5 separate regions of the Homo sapiens genome follow, and regions 2, 3, 4 and 5 are each reported to be linked to region 1. The links are microRNA targets in miRTarBase. Many come from high-throughput screens and were not tested one by one. Region 1 holds a microRNA gene; each other region holds the end of a gene's coding sequence. Distances are from middle to middle.

Region 1 (4,000 bases):
TAGATGAACACTTGCCTTGTGATACCCACCCCCCACCAGCTCCCCCTTACAGACACGTACTCAGGAGTTCAGAGGCAGTAGCTTTGACCTTTCATCTCTGGGTCTTAGTGCTGGCACATATAATGGGTCTTAACAAATATTTTTCAGGTAATACCTATTACCTAAACAAAGTGGAATGTAGTACAGAAAACTGATTTTGCTAGTTTCACAGAAAACTTTGCATTTAAAGTTGGGCCTTCAAGGATAAGCAAAGTCTTGGGAAAAATAAGAATAGATATTCCAGGTAGAGGGACCAGGGTAAGTAAAGGCATGGAGACATGAATGTGTTATGTAAGTCTAGGAGTGGGAAGCAGTTTGGTATACCTGGACCATAGAAAGTTTGCAGGAACAGGAGTAGCAGGAAATGAGGCTAGAGAGAAGTCCACAGAGCCAGATTGAGATGGGCTGTGAATACCACCCTAAGGAGTTTGGCTCTAGTCCTGCAAGTGTTAAGAAAACATGGAAGGGCTGTGAGTTGGGAGATGACATCATGTTCTGTTGGAGGAAGCTAACTGGCAGCAGTTTGGAGGTAGGGAGACTAAAAGCAGGGAGGCTAATTGGAAAGGTGTTGCAATATTTTAGATAAGAGATATGGGGGCCAGGTGCAATGGCTCATGCCTGTAATCCCAGCACTTTGGGAGGCCGAGGCTGGTGGATCACCTGAGGTCTGGAGTTCAAGACCAGCCTGGCTGATATGATGAAACCCTTTCTCTACTAAAAATACAAAAATTAGCTGGGCTAGGTGGTGGGCGCCTGTAGTCCCAGCTACTCGGGAAGCCGAGGCAGGATAATTGCTTGAACCCAGGAGGCAGAGGTTGCAGTGAGCTGAGATCGTGCCGCTGTGCTCCAGCCTGGGCAACAGAGCGAGACTCCATCTCAAAACAAGCAAAAAAAAAAAAAAGAGAGAGAGATACGGAGATATGGGCAGGCAAAGGGGAAAGGAGGTGAGTGTGGGGTTTGGGGTGGTTTTGCAGTATATATTTTAGAGATAGAAACCTATTTTCCGTAATTGGGATTATTTTGACTCCTACCATTGTAACATTTTCTAGACATTGGTTTTAGAGGTACTTCTTATAAGGACTGTACCAAGAAACTAGTTGAATGATATATTCCTCAAGGTTTGGGGCCTTTTTGGTGCCATGCTTTGCTTTCTTTAGTTAGGATTAGTCTTGGCTATTTATCCTTCTGCTTTGACTATGAGAAGAACCACATACCTGTAATTGGTCAGACAAAAGAACATTTTATATTCTCTATGTCTCTGCCTTGCACTAGAAATGTTTGGGTAAAAAATTTATTGGTTTAAGAAGGAAGAAATGTGCCCAAATAGCCAATGATTGGCTTGATGGCTTTGGCTAGGCCGTTTTGCTGCTTTGAGCTTCAGTTTTCTTATCTGTAAAAGAAACATATTGAGCTAAATCTTGATATCTTTTTCCTATTTCTTAACGTGGTATGGAAGTTAACACTTTCGTCCTTTTACTGAATGAAAATAATCTAATAGTAGCTTAAAGAAAACGGAAGCATCTTTCACTTCAGTGTTTTGAGCGTAATGAAATGAATGCTATTATTATAAATAGCAGTACCATTTTACAAAATCAGAAGCTAGGAAAATGTATTTGGCCTTTGACTCGTGGTTGGTCCTCAGTGAATGTTCAGTGAATAGAATTATAAAATCTCTTTGTTCTTTTTTGCTGAGTACTAAAGACCATAAATTTATTACAGATGATATTTACTGATAATAAAGTACTTTTATTTTTACTGGTACCCAAAGAAGGATTCAAAAATCTTGGCAGATACCATATTACCAAATCTAACTATAGGAGCTGGACCAAGAGAGAAGACTCTGTAAATCACCTGTCTACAGACCCAAGACCCAACCATCTTAAAAGAGGATTCAGGAAATCATTTAAATGTTTCTTCCTGCTTTCATGCCTTGAACATGCTGTTTCTGAGCAATACACTACAGAGATTGCCCTAATTGACACTAAATATGAGTTTTAAGCATTTATTCTGAAAACTAGACCCATGTAAACAAGTTAGCATCCAACTATCAATTCTTAGAAAATCTACTTTCCCTATATGTCTACTGGATTATTTGTCTCAGATCTTAGGGGAGGAAGTGGAAGAGCTGGAGAACAGCACGTGTTATTTTAGAGTTATAACTGGAAGTATTTGGAATGGCTTCTATGAAAGTTTATTTCACTGAAAATGTGGAAACAGCTTTGGAACTAAGGAATGGGCAGAGACTAGATTTGGAGGAGCAGGGTACTAAAAGCCTAGAGTCTGGCGAGGACTTAGAAGAGAAAAAGATTCTGGAAAGTTTGGAGCTCTTAAAGAAAAATAAAAATTTACTTCACTTCTAACTATTTGGTTGGTGCAAAAATAATTGCAGGTTTTGCCATTACTTTTTCACCAACTAACAAATTCAGTTTCAAAGATTTCTATACTGCTGACAGTTTTTTTCAAATATTAGCCCTTTTAATTATTTCATTACCAGACCAATATAACCTTAATTTTTTTCAACCAAGATAAACAATTTTTCTGCAGTAAATTTGTATTTATGTTCCAGACACATCTCATCTGATATACAATATTTTCTTAAATTGTATAAAGAGAAATTATTGTACATCGGATGAGCTGTGTCTGGGATTAAGTATTAGCTCCACTGTAACCTTCATTTTCTTGAACACTGGAAAGAAAGGCCAACGGTCATTTAGTAGGGTTGGAATAGGATGGGGAATGGGGCTTTGGTGAGAGAGCATTGGACTGTTGGTTATAGAAACACAGTTCAAGTATATCTGGAGTTCAGATTTGAGATCTGACTAGGAGAATCTGTCTAGTGAAAAAAGCTAGACCTTTACAAATTGTAGTCAGGAGCTACCGTTGTAACAGTCTGCCAGAGTTCCTGATACAAAAGATTGATAATTTGTGTGTTTGAAAAACAAAACAAAACAAAACACATCTACCTTCAATTTGACTTACTGCAACTCTGATTTTCATGGCAAGGGATAGAGACAAAATTCATTCTATAAAATTTGAAAAAAAATGTATATCCTGAAACCATTGGAAATTGGATATCAGCATTAATTTTATTGGACTGAAAAACCTCCAGTTTACTAACAGGAGTTGAAAGTCATCACTTTTCCTTTCATCATAGTGAGTTTTCATCACAAACCACAATGATATGCTTATCTCAAATATATTCATTTACTTGTTTTACACAAGTATCATTTCTGTTTACATAACACGCAATTTTGTTGCTGCTGCTGTTGTTTTATTATGCCTGTCACTTGAGTAAAAGATGGATAAGGTAAGGTCTCCATTTAGAAATGTATAGTCTCTTGGCAGGGAAGACAAATAAAGGCCCATAATTATCATAACAGAAAAATTAATATGTGACGCAAGAAAAAATAAAGATACTATTAAATTTCTTTGGGACTTTGAAGGAGGAAGGGAGCATATAGACACTTAGTAAATATTGTTTGAAGAAGGGAATGAATATGTAAAGGGAGAATAAACCTCACCTATAAGGTCTAGGGCAATTTAAACACAAAGGAGTTGTGTAGGATTATTTAAGGTTTGCAAATGTGTAAAATTATCTCACTACAATACTAGGGAAATGGAAAAACACCAAAGTTCCTCTACCAGCTTTTGCTGGATGAGATGGGCCAGAAGTAGTAACTGCGAGGGCAGCCTGTATTTCTGTTGTTGGTGTGGTTTATCTTCCCAGTGCCAATGCTGCCAACTTCCCCTCAAATAAAAACCCATAGGGGTTCAGAGTCTCATGAGGTGAGAACAGACTTGCACTATCTGTGACAACAACAAAAGCACTTATAATTTTGATGTGGAGGATCCTAATTGAAATCTGCTGTTTGAGGTTCCTTGGGTCCTGCATTCTTTCTTAAATATTTCTACTTGAGTTGGTTATTGATCCTTATTTATTTTCCGTCTAATCGATTGACTT
Region 2 (4,376 bases), not on the chromosome of region 1:
TTTTAGAACACATACTCTGAAAAGAAGAGGATAAGGGAAGTGTAGAGCAAAGGGAATAGTTGGTCAATAAATGTAAATGGCTCCATAAAAATGTTGAAATGTACTAACGAGGAATCCACAAAGTGTGTTCATCTTCACCGAAGCACCTCAAAGGCACTCAAAACCCTGCTCTAATAAACACTTAACCACAGGTTTTCAGGGCAACTTGCTTGTTTTGGCCTCCACATTTTATACCGTTTAGGTCCTCAGAAATGCTTTTCTCCTTCCTGTTTTCTTCCAAGTGTAAGCCCATGGCTTTCACAGGCAAGTTATAGAGTCGACTGAGAAGACAGTGTACTTTCCTCGACACGTAGATCCCAAGTCCCAACAATGAAGGAGGATCGTTCCCAATTGTCTTGGAATAATGAAAATAAACATATATGGATTAAGTGGCAACAAAGATGAGATAATGGCTAAGGCATTCCGGGATTAAAGATCTTACAACTCAGGTTGTAACTGTGATTAAACTGATGAGAGTGGGGAGTTCCAGTGCCTTTGTTCTTTGGAGTAATTCCAAAACTCCTCTGGGCAAGTATGCTATGGAAACTGAATCCCGAGTAGATGAAGCGGTTAAGCAAATATACAGGGTTTCACACTAAACTGCAGTAGAAAAGCATCAGAAACTGCAGAAAAAAGAAGTGTATGTTCATAATTATGTATGATTATGTGGATGTGTGTATATAAATACTTGATATAAAGAAATATAATGGAAAACTAGTTGAGCACATAAAAACTATATTCAAAATTCTTACGTGCCATTTTTTAAATTCCTAGACTTAAGCTACTGTAACAAAGGAAAAAGCAGCATTGGTCATATCAGAAGCCAGATGTCATTCAGTATCAACACCCCCCTTAGCACAGGAAGATCCAGACATTTGAGCAACTATAGCTTCAGAATACCGGCCAACCACGAATTCCATAATAGAAATATAAATGCATCCATTCATTCCCTCTCATTAACAGTCAGGCTTTGAACAATGCAAGTGATTAACACATTCATTGTTCTGTTATCCTTTTGCCTCAAATTTTTACTTCTTTAGGGATCAAAGATATCTGAACACTTAGCTAACAAATGCCTCTGCGAAACCATCTCTGCAAAACGTAGTGGGCATCAAAAGTGCCAGCATGAATTTTTTACTATCTCAAGGGTGTGACAAAAGCACTAAAGGAAAACAAATCTATGAACTAGTTTTATTTGCATTTAACATGATTATACACATTCATGTGTCTAACAAGATCTGCACTGTTACATTAAAAATACAGTACAATAACATTCAACATGAGGTACTTCATATTTATGTATTTTTTCCTTCATAAATAATGCTGTAAGCTACTAAATTCAAGCACACTGATGCACAAGTGGCTACAGTGTCTTGAATTAGCTGAGCTTATTTAAACACCTTAATAAACAAAAAAGTTCAGTGCAATAATTATGTAGAAATTAGACCATTTACTTAAATACTATTTTAAGATATGCTTAAAGAATGTCACATTAGAACTGCTAGCCTAGTTCCCCTTTATCCCCAGAATGAACAACGACAAAGACTGCCAGCCAGATACGTTGGGGAAAAGCATCTACAGTGTATTCTGCTTAATAAAGTTGTGTTTATAGAATAAAGTTGCCTGCTTTGTTAGAACAATGGTTTCTAGTTTTAAAAGCTACAAAATCCAAGATTACAAAAGTAAATAAAGCAAGCATATTAGCCTTCATTCCATTTCATTGAAAATGCATAAAGGACAATAGGGTTTAAAATGTAAAATTTCTTATTCTAAATACAATTTTCAAATTTTACCCACAGCTCTCGGTACCAGCCAATCAGATGGTAGATATGTTTTAAAGTAATAACAATTAACATAAAATTACATTATTCTATACACAGTGTACAGGATTTCACACGACTTTCACCAGCAGCTCACTAGTCACATGGAGGCAGCTAGCAAACATGGGCACTGACAGTGAGCGTTAGTGAATGAACGCACTGCACCTGAAGACTATCACACCCACCTCAACAATCTGATAGGATGCAATTAAAGTTTCTTCTCTGGCTTACAAACAAGTGCCTTCTTATAAGGTCTACCAATTTGCACAGCAGCTATGAGTTACTGAAATGTGTAACCATAATTTAAAAACCAAATCTTTTGTAGAAGTGTGCTTTTTAATTGAAAATGTACCTTTGTACTTCAATGCTTTGCCAAACTACCTGTAATCTCCCCAATAAGAAATAATTGTACTTTTAGAACGTTGTCCTGGAAATACTCATCTATAATCACCAGTAACAGCTTTTCATCATCTATGCTAATAGATGTAGGTAATGGCAAGAGTGATTAAAACATTTCCAATAATCCAGTGTTCTCCTCCCTCAGGGAAGCCGGCTGAAGGCAACAAGCCCACATCTACAGGGGAAGAAGTGGCCCAGAGGCACAGTGAATACGTCAGGGCAGTCACTCATGGGCCTTGCTGGGGCCAGCAGGAGGACCATTACTGTCCCACCTCTTACTAGCCAGGTAGAGAGGAGACAGCTCCTGAGCTGGCAAACACACTTGCATGCGCATGGGTGCGCAGGCACACACACACCCCAGGACTAACTCCTGGCTCCAGACAAGCCAGTTTCAGGCTTGCAGAGCAGGAGCAGGAGGCGGCCAAGGACCACACTCTGGGTGGCGGCGGGGAAGCCATCTCAGGATCACACTGAGCAGAAAAGCTGCCCAGAAACACATGGATACTTCAACTGGAAGTGAACACACTGGACACTGCCAGGGACACAGGCACTAAACCAGCACAAGCCAGCAGCGAAGGAGAATTTAATAAGTTTTTCCCTCCTTTGTTTACATTATCTGTGGACAAGTAAGGGAGCTAGATGTGATACTGATGCAGTGAATATTAGGTATAATAAAATGTGTCACTCCAGGCCATTTTTTATAAACCCTGCAGGCATATGTTGGCACTTTAAGATGGCCAGGGGCCAGATTCTAGCAGTCTAGGAACAGGACAAAATTAAAATTAACAAAGAATATAGTATACAATCAAAGTGGATCAGGTAAAGTATATTTCAAATTTAAAAAAATGAACAAAGGTATCTCATTACATTAAATGTAGTGCTACAAAACTAGTTGCTACTCCATTTGTATAAAGAATTGTTTGGTCCTCTTTTAATGGGGAAAAAGAAAATAGAAATTCTACACAGTATGACTTATACAAATAAGCAAACAGTGGGGATCAAAAGCTAAGTGGAGAGAAGAGTTTGGCTTTTTCAAACTGCATATTCTTATATGCCATCAATTAAATTATTTGTAGTATGAGTCTTTTTCAGGCTTCCTTTTTAAACTGTCTTAGTTTAAATTAGTAGGAGTTTAACTTTTTTCTACTGACAATAAAATCTAAAAATTTACTTCTAAAAGAAGTATCTGTATTGAAATTTTTTGTCTTCTAAACTAAAAGAAAAGAAATCTGCTTGTAGAAGTCATGGCCTAAACAAATGCCCCCAGTTCCTTATTTTCCAATTTTACATTGATATTCTGAAGTGTTTAATACCTAACTATCTTATGAATTTAGTAATTTTTTAAATCCCAGAAGCAACAAATGTAAAAGGAATAAAACGAGAGCCAAACACAACCACTGTCTACTTTCTAAATTATTACTCATTACAAGGCAAAACTTCTTTCAAAATTGTACACTGAGGTTTATCTGTTTTGGGGGGTAAGAGGAGTTCTGTTTAAAAATAACTCTTGTTATCACTTTATTTCTGTTCATCAAATAACGTCCAAAAGGAAATTCAAGGTGATCCAAAATTATCTTCAGAGGGACAAAACTGAGAGGGTGGTGGAACGCTTGGGAAAGCACATAATCTCCCCAGGTTCATAGATGCAACTCTAAAAACCACAAAGCCTTAATAAGAACGTTAGCTCTTTTAAGCAGATAGTTAAAAGCGGAATGCTGCATTTTTGCCTGTACATAATTAAAAGGTTAAAAGAAATTAGAACCTGCCTACCGCTTCATTCATTACAAATTACCGGCACTGATCACATATTTGCAGATGAGCTAAGCATCAGGCAAGTTGGAACCAGATGTGCACTTTGGAGCTCAAGCTGCTTCAGGAAGTGAGTTTTCAAGCATAGAATATAAGTTCAGGGATCTGCCCTCCCTGTACCCCAGTGCCATTGGTGCTATCTGAGGAGCACTGAAACTGGACAGTCACTTTGCCACACTGAACTTCTGTCATGCCTTCTTGTCCAAAGTAGCTGAGTTCATTGCCATCCAGTATCACACTGGCTGTGTAGAAGGTGTCTGGCTCGATCTGCACTGGGTATTCAAACCATACGGGAAAGGTATTGCTGGA
Region 3 (4,376 bases), not on the chromosome of region 1:
AGTTGCTTAACACAACACAAACTTATTGTCTTACAGTTTTGGAGATCAAAAGTTTAAAATAAAGGTACCTTCTGGAGGCCAGGCTCACCAGCCCTCCTTTTACATCTTCAAAGCTAGGAGAGTTGCAGCTTCTCTTTCTATTTCCCTTTACTTCTGCCATCACGGTGTCTTCTCTCCATGTTTCTGACTCTGTCCTTCCTGCCTCCGTCATATGTGTCCCCCTGTGATTATATCATTGAGCCCACCTGGGTAATAATCTCTTTATCTTGAGACCCTTAACCACACCCGCAAAGTCCCTGTTACTGTGTAAGGTAACATATTTGCAGGTCGTAGGGGTTAGGACATGGACATCCTTCAGGGCCAGTCATTCAGTTTACCACAGTGTTCGTTTTAATTTTTTCTCAGCGCCCGTCATTTGGTTTACTTCATTTCAAAAAGAAAAAAAATCTCTCCCCGTTGAACAAAAGATGCAAAGCGATTGAGAGGGTCCAAAGTTATTTTATTGATCAACTGAATAAATATACATAAATGTTACTTTCTTTTTCTTTACTTTATTTTTTTTTCCCCATTCCAGATCCTGGGTGTTTGGCTGACCTACAGATACAGGAACCAGAAAGACCCCCGCGCGAATCCTAGTGCATTCCTTTGATGAGAAAACAAGGAAGATTTCCTTTCGTATTATGATCTTGTTCACTTTCTGTAATTTTCTGTTAAGCTCCATTTGCCAGTTTAAGGAAGGAAACACTATCTGGAAAAGTACCTTATTGATAGTGGAATTATATATTTTTACTCTATGTTTCTCTACATGTTTTTTTCTTTCCGTTGCTGAAAAATATTTGAAACTTGTGGTCTCTGAAGCTCGGTGGCACCTGGAATTTACTGTATTCATTGTCGGGCACTGTCCACTGTGGCCTTTCTTAGCATTTTTACCTGCAGAAAAACTTTGTATGGTACCACTGTGTTGGTTATATGGTGAATCTGAACGTACATCTCACTGGTATAATTATATGTAGCACTGTGCTGTGTAGATAGTTCCTACTGGAAAAAGAGTGGAAATTTATTAAAATCAGAAAGTATGAGATCCTGTTATGTTAAGGGAAATCCAAATTCCCAATTTTTTTTGGTCTTTTTAGGAAAGATTGTTGTGGTAAAAAGTGTTAGTATAAAAATGATAATTTACTTGTAGTCTTTTATGATTACACCAATGTATTCTAGAAATAGTTATGTCTTAGGAAATTGTGGTTTAATTTTTGACTTTTACAGGTAAGTGCAAAGGAGAAGTGGTTTCATGAAATGTTCTAATGTATAATAACATTTACCTTCAGCCTCCATCAGAATGGAACGAGTTTTGAGTAATCAGGAAGTATATCTATATGATCTTGATATTGTTTTATAATAATTTGAAGTCTAAAAGACTGCATTTTTAAACAAGTTAGTATTAATGCGTTGGCCCACGTAGCAAAAAGATATTTGATTATCTTAAAAATTGTTAAATACCGTTTTCATGAAATTTCTCAGTATTGTAACAGCAACTTGTCAAACCTAAGCATATTTGAATATGATCTCCCATAATTTGAAATTGAAATCGTATTGTGTGGCTCTGTATATTCTGTTAAAAAATTAAAGGACAGAAACCTTTCTTTGTGTATGCATGTTTGAATTAAAAGAAAGTAATGGAAGAATTGATCGATGAATTAAGTGAGGTGGAATTCTTTTCTTTCTGCTTTAGCTTCTCTCTGTTGGACTTAGAGCTGGGTATTGCTATTTTAGTGTATAATCAAGCTGTGGAAATAAATTTCCAGCATTAATGTCTATTGGTAGTCATCCTCAAATCCTTTCTTGAAATGTTTCAGTGGCTAATATTATCTCCATGGTGAGAAAAAGTTTTTCTAAAAAGAGAAGCCATTAATATTTATTTGGGAAAAATATATACGTTCTTTCCCATTACGAAAAATTATTAATTTCTTGTTTTACATTCTAGGTAGCATGTGGTATTTTATTGTCTTACTAGGTTTTTAGACCGAGAGAGGGTAAATGGTTGATCTGTAGAGTTTTAGAGCATTTTGTAGGTTTGTCACTTCCGTGACTTTGCAACACTAGCTAATTTTCCAAGGAAACAGAATTGTGCCATTTTCACAATGTCCTATGAGCTCTGGGGTAGCCCTAACAGTGTCCCCACTTATACCATAAGATGGGATTATAAGTGACATATGAAGGGAGATTTTATTATTATTTTTTATTATTATACTTTAAGTTCTGTGATACAAATGCAGAATGTGCAGGTTGTTGTTACACAGGTACACATGTGCCATGGGGGTTTGCTGCACCTATTAACCTGCCATCGAGGTGGGAAGTTTTAAAATTCTGTCTTCCTTTAAGGCATTTGGCATTTTCCATGTTTGTTTTGTTACATTTTGAAATTATTATAAGGCCCTGGAATCTCCTAATGTAATACTTTCCTTGGTACAAATGATTATATGTGGAAAGGCTATTCCATAGAGAATCAGCCCTTACCTTGGTTTGTGCTCTAATTGCAGTGCCCTTATTTGGGTCAACACAGTATGCTTCATGCTGAAGTTAAATGATGCATCCTGGAAATTCTAACAAAGGAAGGTCTCTTCTTCTGTTCAAATATAGATTGACTGATGTCAGCCTTCCTCAAGTGTGTTACTTAAAAAGCAAAGTGCAAAGAGAACAGCTGTCAGGGTGAGAAGTCTAAACACATTTTTGAAAGTAGCCTGGTGCTGACAAAATGCATTTAATCGTGCTCAAGGCTTCATGAAATTGAGTTCATTAAATTAGGATTTTAAATCATTATGGCTAAGAAAAACATGTATATCTAAATATTAAATAAAACAAAATGTAAAGATATCTAAGATGTTAAGATTTTAGTAAAATAAGTTAATGAAAAAGAAAGCCAGGGTCTGGGAAGTATGAATATTTAGGACTACTAAACTATGGGATTATAAGAGTGGGTAATGACAGTTAGCCACTCAAGAAATACACATTTTCAAGCACCAAGGTTGTCCTTGTCAAATGAGTCTGGGCTTTCTGTTTTCTCTGGCAGATCTGAAGGTGATAGATTACCTAACACCTTCTGTGATGCTTCCTGGGATCTTTGTGTCGGGGTGCATATTTAGTGGAAAACCCTCTGAATAAGTCAGTCCTGAATCCCAGATGGCCCTGCTATGATCCTGCAAAGGTCATCCTGATCCCAGGATTAGAGAGGGCCACTGCCCAAGGGCACAGAAATGCTGCCATAAACACGTAGTGTCAGAGGAGGATGAGTTTCAGATCAGGGTAGACCCTAGATGTCCTTTCTTCCCAAACCTAGCATTTCTTTAAAAAGGAACTGTGCTGCTTAAAAAAATCTCTTCTCTATTTGCACATTCCATTTATAGGAATGTTTTTTGGCACATTTGCCCGGTCAGCCTTGATGTTAAGGGTTAAATTTTATATAGAGAATATAATACTAATACAAAGGAAGAAAGAGTTCAGCTATAATTTCTAAAATCTGAGCTTGTTGTAGCTTAAATTCATCTCAGATACTCTGTTATCTAAGCAACAATGTGTTTGGTATGAAAACCAGTTTCGCATGTTCAACCTAAGTTACATGCTGCTGAATGGAACCTTTCATAGAAGGAAAGGAAACCAGAAGTGTGGCTTTTAGTTCTTCGTTTCCTTGAGCCAAAACCTCCTCCTACAATTTTTCTAAATATTTGTTTAACTCTGTTAAAGTTTATTCATTATTTTGCAAATACACTAAATACGTCAAACTGTTTCAATTTTTAGCTGGTACTAAAAAAGTTAGAATCAAATTTTTCCATAGTATTTCATAGGAGAAAAACACTTTTAGTCACTGTGGTTGTACAGACATGATCATTCATGTGTGAATTGTTTTATTAGAGATGACAATAAAGTTAAAAACCAGCTTTTCCAGGGTTCTGGATAAGTGAAGGGATTGGTGTAAAGTTTTGTTCTGTATTTGGTACGTTTTGGACTAAAATAATTTTTAGACCAGGCTTTCTGTGCCAAATGAAATTACAATATGTGTTAGTGAATGTGTTCTAAATAAATTTAAGAGTGCAATCCACCCTTTCCCCAACACCTCCACTCCACGAGAAGAGGAGAGGGAGAGAAGGGAACGGGGCTTGTCATGTGGATGTTTTTCTTAAATGTCATAACTGAGCAATTGTAGTCATTGAAATACCTCTTGAAAATATGAGAAAGGGGAAAATCAAACTCTGCCATGTGGCAGGCCAATTCTCATCACTCTCCTTAGGAAAACCAGCTTTTGGAATTCATTTTCAAATGAGGATTTGAGGCCTGTGAGTTAAAATATATGTCAAAGAATGGACTTTGACATCACTTGGGGG
Region 4 (4,376 bases), 67 Mb from region 1:
TGAGCAGGAGACAGAGCATGGACTTCCTAAGCCACTTTAAGGAATTTGTACCTGTCTTCAAGGCACTAAGAAGCCACTGGGGGTGCTTTTTTTTTTTTTTTTTGAGACAGAGTCTCAAATCTGTCAAAAATCTGTCGCCCAGGCTGGAGTGCAGTGGCGCAATCTCAGCTCACTGCAACCTCCACCTCCTGGGTTTAAGCAATTCTCCTGCCTCAGCCCTCTGAGTAGCTTGGATTACAGGCGCCCGCCACCACGCCCAGCTAATTTTTGTATTTTTAGTAGAGACTGGGTTTCACCATGTTGGCCAGGCTGGTCTTGAACTCCTGACCTCAAGTGATCCACCCACCTTGGCCTCCCAAAGTGCTGGGATTACAGGCGTAAGCCACTGCGCCCGGCCAGCCACTGGGGGCTTTTAAGCAGGAGAAATTTTGCTTGCTGGTTTTTAAAACTGGAGTGGGAAAATCATTCAATCACAGCAATTATCTTTAAGTGCCAGTAGATTACCTATCCCTTCTTAATGCACCAGGAGATACACAAATGCACCTCAGCCAAGTCCTCTTCCCTTGGACAGGGGTGCCCCCAGCTGGCCATTGCATTCAGAAGCTGGAAGCCATGTTTGTCTAAACCTCTTTAGAGGTTGGGAATTTCCTTCCCAACGTAATTCTGTGGGATAAAATCAGGCTTGTCCTGGAAATGCTACCCCAATCAGGAGTGGTCACTTTCTATCTTCTTTATTCTTCAATGTTTATGCTCAATAATAAAGATTCTTTTTTAAGGGTCAATCAAGTTCATCAAGGGTACTCTACAAGCCTAAATACACACAGAAATCATGAGTAACCTAAGTAATCTCTAATATGTTTGATTAGATCACCTAACTCTAGATAGAATGTTCATTTTTCTTGATTTAAAAAGGGCTCACACATTTGATTAATCTCCCATTTTACAAGATGACAAGTTTATCACTCCTGGACACTGGCACATTAGCAGGGACTACTATAGCAGCACTGGGTACATTATCACTACATTTCCCAAACTGGTATCTTCAGTGTACAACTTATTATTAAAACAGGATCTTGCTCTGCCACCAAGGCTGGAAGGCAGTGGCACAATCATAGTTCACTGGAGCCTCAACCTCCTGGGTTCAAGAGATCTTCCCGTCTCAGCCTCATGAGTAGCTGGAACTACAGACAAGCACCATTTAAAAATTTTTTTTAAGAGACTGGGTCTCACTGTGTTGCCTGGGCTGGTCTCGAACTCCTGGGCTCTTGATCCTTCCGACTCAGCCTCCCAAAGTACTGGGATTGCAGACATGAACCACCACATGTAGTTCGGAGAACAACTTATAAAAGAATGACATATTAGAAAACACCCTTTTTATTACTGCACTTACTTGGTACATTTCAATCTCAAGTTAAAGCAACTTTTCAAAGACAAGGGCATTATATTTTCCAGTCAGCTGAAAACAGTCATTTGCAACCCACTCTCCATCCCATTCCTGATTTCCTTCTCTATTTTTTTTCATAGAACTTTATCACATTTTAGCATACCATATAACTTACTACTGTCTTCCTTCACCAAATATAAGCTCTTTAAAACCAGGTATTTTTGTTTTGCTGAGTGATGCAACAATAGTGGTTAATAGTGCCCAGGAAGGCATTTAAATATTTGTTAAAAGAATTTGCAAATGTATCATCATAGGTGTTTCTTCGTATGGCTGTCTTCTGTTCTGCCAAGGAAGGGCCAAACTCATCTGTGAATTTTCGCACCTTCTACTTCTTTTCTGTGTGTGTGAGTTGCTGAATCCTACCTTTCAGGCAACAAAAGCAAATCAACAAATTGTTCTAAGGCAGTAATTACACACAGGACCCTTTTCCAGCAGGCAAATCAACTTTCAAAAGCAATGTCATCCATCTTCCTTCATTAGTTGAGGCTCTAAATGCCATTCATCACACTAAACCTATTCATTTATACTGTCACTCCATGCTGCCGTCATTGCACATTTTTCATATGTTACACTGGAATGATTCAGGCACTCTACTAACATAATTGGATTAGCTAGATGGTATTTTGGCAGACCTGAAAATCTGGAAAGACTGTTAATGAATCCTTTCCAAGGATCTGAATTCCCTCCTGAGCAGCAGAATCAGGGAGATCTTTGTCTTTCTATTCTTGCATCCATCCTTTCAACTCACTTATCTACCCAAAAATTACTTACTCAACTTTATATATAAAGGCATTTTTTACTGCAGACCTCTAGGAAATTTTTGTTGAGACTAGATTATAATCTCCACAAAAAGTGTCTGACCTACAGTAAGTGCTCTACGTTTTGTTGAAAGAATGGTGGGCACTTTATATCTTTATCACTCATTTCCAAATGCATAATCTGATGGTGGTCAATGTACACAGGCCCACCAGAGACCCAGCTGGCTAATCTAACTGGGCCAGAGCCAGGTGGCTTGTTTAAATCACTGTGGTGGGCAGAGTCCTAAATTGGCTCCCCAAGATATCCCTCAGACCATGAAACTTGGTGTCTGTGGTTATTACATAATCTGGCAAGAGATTTACAGATGTAATTATGATTCTCATCAGTTGACTTTGAGTCAAGCAAAAAGATGTGGTAGGCCTAATCACACAAGCCCTTTAAAATCATTTTGTCTGGTTTGTAGCAGAAAGGGAAGTCAGATAGATTCCAAGTATGAGAAGAACTGAATGCACCACGCCCAGCTTAAAGATGGAAGGAGCCATGTGTCAAGAAATGTGGGTAGCTTCCTGGAGCTGAGAGTGGTACCTGACAGTCAGCAAGGAAATGGGGACCTCAGGACCACGATGCAACAATCTGGCAACTCAATGAGCTTAGCAGCAGACTCTTCCCCTAGACTCCAGACCAAAGCCCAGCCTGGGACTCAGCTTGATTTCAGCTTTGAGACCCTAAACAAAAAAAATTCCAGTCAAATCTGCCCATCTGGCCTACAGAACTGTAAGATACTGTTTGTGGTAATTTGTTAAGCAGCAACAGAAAACTAGTAACATAACCACTCCATACACTAGAAAGTGGTTTTTTTTGCAAGGACCAAATCCTGTAATTACAGCAGGTTTGTTACTAACTCATTTGCTGTCATGCAAGCTCTTCCCTGCTCTTCCCTTTCCTGAATTTCTGCTTTCCTTTTCCATGACCATGGAAATACTGTCCAGGAAAGAATTCCACCAAAAATTAGTTTTTATATCTGAAAATAAGATCAGTTAAGGTACTAAAAGAAAACTTCTTTGGGCATTGTCCAGCTTATAATACTGCCCTTTTATAATCAACCCACAAAGATAAATCAAGGAATAAACTTATCAATAACCAAAAAGGTCCACATCCATGCCAATAAATTTATAAAAATTAAAAAATACACTACAAATCAGATATTGAAAGTGCATGCAAATTATCTTATGAGAACTGTCTTGCAACCTGACAGGATATTAAAAAAATAGAAACTAAAAATTCAATAAATAAATAAAAAGAGAACTGTCTCAACATAGAAAACAATCAAATAAATATGTACACTGAGTCAGAAAATTATTTTAATAGTTACAAAAATTTTTTTTTTTTTTTTTTACAGAATCAGTATAAAATAGCAGTTGATTTCTCCATAATTATCAGAATTATTTATACTTGAGGTCTTGGCTAAGTGGGGCTGAAATCAACAAAAGGTCTTGGACTGTTGGCTCAGAAATCATCCTAGAAAGCCCGCCCTGTTGATATCTGTCATGCTTAGCTCTTATGAGATGACCCAGTCCTTAAAAAAAAAAAAAAAAAAAAAAAAAAAAGAATCTCTCTTTATTCATTCTTTGGAGGCTTGAAGTGAATTCGGCAGCGTTCATTAAACACCTAAAATATTGAAACAGAAACAAAAGTCATTGAGTTATCCTGCGTAAATCAGGCCTGGAACTAAATTCAATTTAGTAGGCTCCAAAAGGCTATTACCATTTTTGTCCTAAGTCAACAGATTTAGGAAACAGAAGAGTTTCCTCAGCAGTTCAAACTGACTTATGAGGTGCCAAATGCACAGAAGGCCTTGACATCCATTTACAAGACAATTCTAGTATTTTAATAAAATTTAAGTTACTTCGGGAAAAAATCATCAAGAGCCAGGTAATTTAGTTACTAGCAAACATTTCAATTTCATATTCTGGACATTTTTTAAACAACAACACAAAAATATCTAAAATAAGTTAAATAAAGAATGCTCAATAACTAAATGTCCACATGGAACTGTGTTAAATAAAAATTTGGTATGGTTATTCAATGGAATACATGCAAGGTTAAAAATAATTTATGTTCTGATTTAAAAAGATCTCCAAGATTATCAAGGGAAAAAAAAGTGTGAATAGTA
Region 5 (4,376 bases), not on the chromosome of region 1:
ATTCAAATTCTCCAAGATTACATAATCAACTAAAGATTGCCATGCGTTTCCCAATGACTCCTAAAGACTAAACTACTCAAAAGAATAAGGCAAGAGATAAGTTTTAGCTAAGACATCTGATACACTATCTTATCCTCTGATCAAGGCAGAAGGAGATCTTTCCTCACAAGTAATTCATTTTAAAGTTTATAGATTTCAGGAATGTATACTTCTCCAGTTTATTTTGAATTATGCTATCCACTTTTATCTAATTTTAATCATGCAAGAGTGATCATATATTCTGATTTCCTGAGACCAATGTTGTGCTGTTGGCCCTATATAACTATTGGTAGTGCCCCCTTTTCATTTCAGAAGTGTCTACTTTTATATACTTAGTTACTATACATTCCTATTAATAAACAATTATAAATTCTGCAAGGTGAAATTTGGATTCAATACACATGGCTTAGCAATAACAGATGAGGCTGGGCGTGGTGGCTCACACCTGTAATCCCAGCACTTTCAGAGGCTGAGGTGGGCGGACCACGAGGTCAGGAGATTAAGACCATCCTGGTTAACAAGGTAAAACCTCATCTCTACTAAAAATACGAAAAATTAGCTGGCCGTGGTGGCAGGCACCTATAGTCCCAGCTACTTTGGAGGCTGAGGCAGGAGAATCGCTTGAACCCGGGAGGCGGAAGTTGCAGTGAGCTGAGATCACGCCACTGCACTCCAGCCTGGGTGACAGAACGAGACTCTGTTTCAAAAAAAAAAAGGAAAAAAAAAAAGGAAGTAACAGATGAAAAGCAAAAGGTTATAACAAAAATTTACAGAAAATCTAGATAAATTTTAATGTATAATAACTTATCTATTTTAAATGATTCAAGCTACACAATTAGATAAATTAGAAATTTGCAATTACATTTTTTAGAGATCATTCCCATTGCAATACCTACATTTTAAGTACAAATAAATGTTTTATGTGTATTTTCCCTTCCTGTATCATCTACTGTTTTCACTTGTATCTATAAAGTTCATAAATTATTTAGCACTTCCTCCTTTCTGTATAAAATAATCATGTGGGATTTAGAAAGTATTAAACTCAGAAAAGGACAGCTTGGCATTACCATTGCCATTTTTCTGCTACATATTAACAAAAAGCAAAGTTTAGAGCAATGTTTTTATAATGTAACATCCTCGGACATTCTTATTTTATTTGCTGAGTCTCATGGAGAGACTAAATATAATTTCTTTAAAGGAAAGGAAAATTTTTGGATATGCCAATTAGTCCCATTGCAGTTTCAGGAAAAAGTATTAGCTCATATGTAGTCTTCAACAATATCCCTTATTATATTCAAACTATTTAAATATTAAATATCTTGATTTCACAGGGATATCTTAATCAGAGTCCATTTTAGTTTCTTGGGAAATAATGAAATTTGTGGGCTCTCACAAGGTGACAGCCTACAGAGGATATACATTTTATACTTCTTTAAAATTTTTTATAACTTGTCATTATATTGTTTACACACAGCATGACTTCTACATGTAAGACTGATCGTTTTACATTACTGTTACAGATTAACATAAAGGTGGAACAAAAATGCTTTAAAAACCATATTTTCATTTTAAGAAACAATAACCATTTTTTTTAAGAAAAGACATTTAGTTACTACCTTTAAAGTTCAAGTCCCAACATCTTAATATATAAACACACCTGGATACGAGATTTAAAAAACCACACAAACACACAAGCTCTAGGTAGAGCTGTAATAAACAAATTCCTTTTATAAACAAAATTTTAACTGAAAAGCCACAGCAGATGGGGGGAAAAAAAAAAGAAAGGATATTACTTGGTAAAATCCAGTGACATCTACAATAGTTTTACAGCACATTTAAGCATTCTAGGGTTTTATATCTTCACCTGCCTTCCATTTCTTAGTTGATCCTTATAAAATCTCTCATTACGAACATAGGTTTGACCTCAAAACTAGTCATGAATTTGAGTGCCAGGAAAAGCAGAACAACAGTCCAAATTTCTATCTTAATATCATAGCCTTAATTCAAAAATGGTTTTGTGTAAAACACAACGCCCAACTAAATGGAAAAAAAAAAAAACACACAAGCAGCAATATGTAATTATACAAAATAGTGATTAATTATATATGAAGTGTTTTTTAGGATGACATCTAGAACGCACCTTGCTCTGAGACTCCTCAATAATCAAATTGACTTAGACCAACAATACTGCTAAGTATTAAAAGCAGTGAAGCAAAGAAAACGCATCAAATAGTACATGCACATCTTACAGAACTTCCACTGAACTCCCCAATGGCTTCTATGCAATGTGCCTCTTTTCCATAACTGTATTAACAACTACCAAGAAAGGAAAGATGAGATTAAAAGTAATGATACTGAACTGAATTGTTTGAAGCCAGTGCCCCATATGTGGGGAAAAGTGCATTTAGTTCAGCAGCAATACAGCACAGTGTGAAGATATTGTGCTTAGACACAGATATTCCAGAATTGAAAGATGTACAAGGCAAGTCAAGATATAAAACCATAGTACACTGTTAAATAACCTTGAAACATACATACATTGCAGTTTTCAAAGAAAGACATTCATGTCATTGTACAAGGATAGGAAGAAATCCTTAAAGTTACCTACTGTAGTTTATGATATAATAAATACATATCTATATAGCATTGTATATACATATATAGATTGTGTGTGTTTATATGTAATTTATTTGCCCAATTATCCTGTTAGTTTTGTGGATCTGCAACTTTCAGGAATGAAAAAACTCCTTTTCACTGCAAGTTTCTCTTCCCCCAAACTTAAAAAATATTCATACTAGAAAAGGTCTCAATACCCTTCCCCTACCCAAAGACTCACTTCAGGTATTTTGCTTCACAACTCGTCAGAGAAGCAAAATTAAAGAAATTCTAGATTTTTGACTGTATCTTTTCACTTTGCCAGTTTTTTTTTTCAACAAGCAAATACCTTTCACTGTTTACACCAGTGGATGCAAATTCTTTAGCAGAGGATTCAAACTCTAGATTTGACTGAATAAAACAGAGCAAATCAAAACAAACAAAAGAAATCCAGTGATTTACTCTGACTGTAAACAATACATAAAATTTAAATCTCAAATCTCAAAATAAGTTAAAGAAAAATTCTACTTTCAGGGCCTACAATACTATAAGGATAAAACAATTGGTAAGGGGAAAATATATATGAAAAGTTGCAACAAAAATTTTTGCCCATTATTTTTCCTAAGAGAAAGTATATCTAACTATACTACCTCTGTCCCTTAAATTTAATAACTTCATAATGTGTTGGCAAATGTTTTAAGCAAACTGGCATATCAGATTACACAACAGAAAAACATCCATCAAATTCAGCAAAGAAAACTTATATAAGCCTTTTGTACAGAATTTAAAAAAAATTCTAAATGGCTATGATTCCTCTATTAGCAGAAACACATAATGCAATTTTTATAAATCTGCCATATACCAATATCTACATAAATAGATACAGATATAGATAAGAAACATTAATGGCAGTCTATTTTTGAACAGTGTGTGGGACCAGCAGATTTATATCAGACCATGGCACGATATGGACCCTGCATCTTTAAGAACTGAATGATGAAAGAAGGCCCCCCAGCAACAATCTGAGGTGGAAGGTGACTGAGTGGACAGTTCTCAATACTCATGATTGAAAGCTTGCTGCAGAGTGCCAGCTCAAAGGGAAGGCTATGCAGGTTGGGGTTGTCATTCAAATACAGTTCTTCTAGGTTCTCCAGTGTACCTGTTTAAAAAAAAAATCAATTTTTTTTTAAAAATTAGTTGCTATTTTAAAAGTTCAACTGGGCATGATGCTGTTCTGGTCATTACATATACTGAACACACATTTCCTTTTATTCTCCTTTCTTAGCTTTAAAACTCTACAACCATGGATCTCAAATTTTGCTGCATATTCAAATCAACTTGGAAGACTTTTTAAACTCCTATATGTCCAGGTCACACTTCATACAAACTAAATTAGAACCTCCTCCTTTATGGTAGGTCTTCAAGCTTGGAGAGGTTTTTGAAAATACATATGCCCCATCTCCAGAGATTCTGTTTGGGATAGTTTGGCACATATATAACATTTACTTATATATATTTTAAAACTCCAAAGGTGAGCTTATTATATATTCAATGTCTATAACCACTTTTCTGTTGTAGATGTAACATTTTCTCAAATTAATAAATTTCTTATGTGCAAAATATTTGTTACTTAATATGAACCTTTCACTAAGAGTTATCACATATATGGCAGTAAGCCAAAAACTGACTTATGTAGACCTTTAAAAATTTTTTCTTAGGATACTTGTATTCTCTAGGAAAAT

What was found. The annotated mature microRNA hsa-miR-944 reads AAAUUAUUGUACAUCGGAUGAG and lies in region 1 at 2,652-2,673, shown strand. An mRNA with a match to its seed (bases 2 to 7 or 8) in the 3' UTR can be bound and repressed. Matches are read on the target gene's strand: a 7mer-m8 pairs with bases 2 to 8, a 7mer-A1 pairs with bases 2 to 7 and ends in A, and an 8mer does both.
Region 2: miRTarBase lists BTBD3 as a target of hsa-miR-944. Seed matches in the 3' UTR shown: 7mer-m8 at 3,670-3,676, 7mer-m8 at 3,323-3,329 and 7mer-A1 at 1,467-1,473.
Region 3: miRTarBase lists TSPAN13 as a target of hsa-miR-944. Seed matches in the 3' UTR shown: 7mer-A1 at 1,000-1,006 and 7mer-m8 at 1,395-1,401.
Region 4: the mRNA of MIX23 is a reported target of hsa-miR-944. Seed matches in the 3' UTR shown: 7mer-m8 at 3,644-3,650, 7mer-A1 at 3,634-3,640 and 7mer-m8 at 3,558-3,564.
Region 5: the mRNA of SHOC2 is a reported target of hsa-miR-944. Seed matches in the 3' UTR shown: 7mer-A1 at 2,136-2,142 and 7mer-A1 at 2,116-2,122.

Annotation. Positions count from the first base shown.
Region 1 is chr3:189,827,324-189,831,323 of GRCh38, forward strand. It overlaps MIR944 (microRNA 944), which reads left to right and starts at 2,599; the gene lies at 2,599-2,686. The region is part of intron 4 of TP63 (tumor protein p63); the gene reads left to right.
Region 2 is chr20:11,923,436-11,927,811 of GRCh38, reverse strand. BTBD3 (BTB domain containing 3) reads right to left here. Exons shown (of 4, transcript NM_014962.4): 4 at 1,217-4,376. The coding sequence ends at 4,146. Among named protein-coding and RNA genes, the nearest start is that of BTBD3-AS1, 7.0 kb to the right of the region's middle. RefSeq lists enhancers at 2,139-2,639, 2,640-3,140.
Region 3 is chr7:16,782,843-16,787,218 of GRCh38, forward strand. TSPAN13 (tetraspanin 13) reads left to right here. Exons shown (of 6, transcript NM_014399.4): 6 at 575-1,694. The coding sequence ends at 649. Among named protein-coding and RNA genes, the nearest start is that of AGR2, 20 kb to the right of the region's middle.
Region 4 is chr3:122,356,049-122,360,424 of GRCh38, forward strand. It overlaps MIX23 (mitochondrial matrix import factor 23), which reads right to left. Exons shown (of 5, transcript NM_001017928.4): 5 at 3,543-3,871. The coding sequence ends at 3,821. Among named protein-coding and RNA genes, the nearest start is that of MIX23, 25 kb to the right of the region's middle. RefSeq lists a silencer at 2,361-2,561.
Region 5 is chr10:111,011,027-111,015,402 of GRCh38, reverse strand. It overlaps SHOC2 (SHOC2 leucine rich repeat scaffold protein), which reads right to left. Exons shown (of 9, transcript NM_007373.4): 9 at 1,738-3,793. The coding sequence ends at 3,585. Among named protein-coding and RNA genes, the nearest start is that of MIR548E, 24 kb to the right of the region's middle.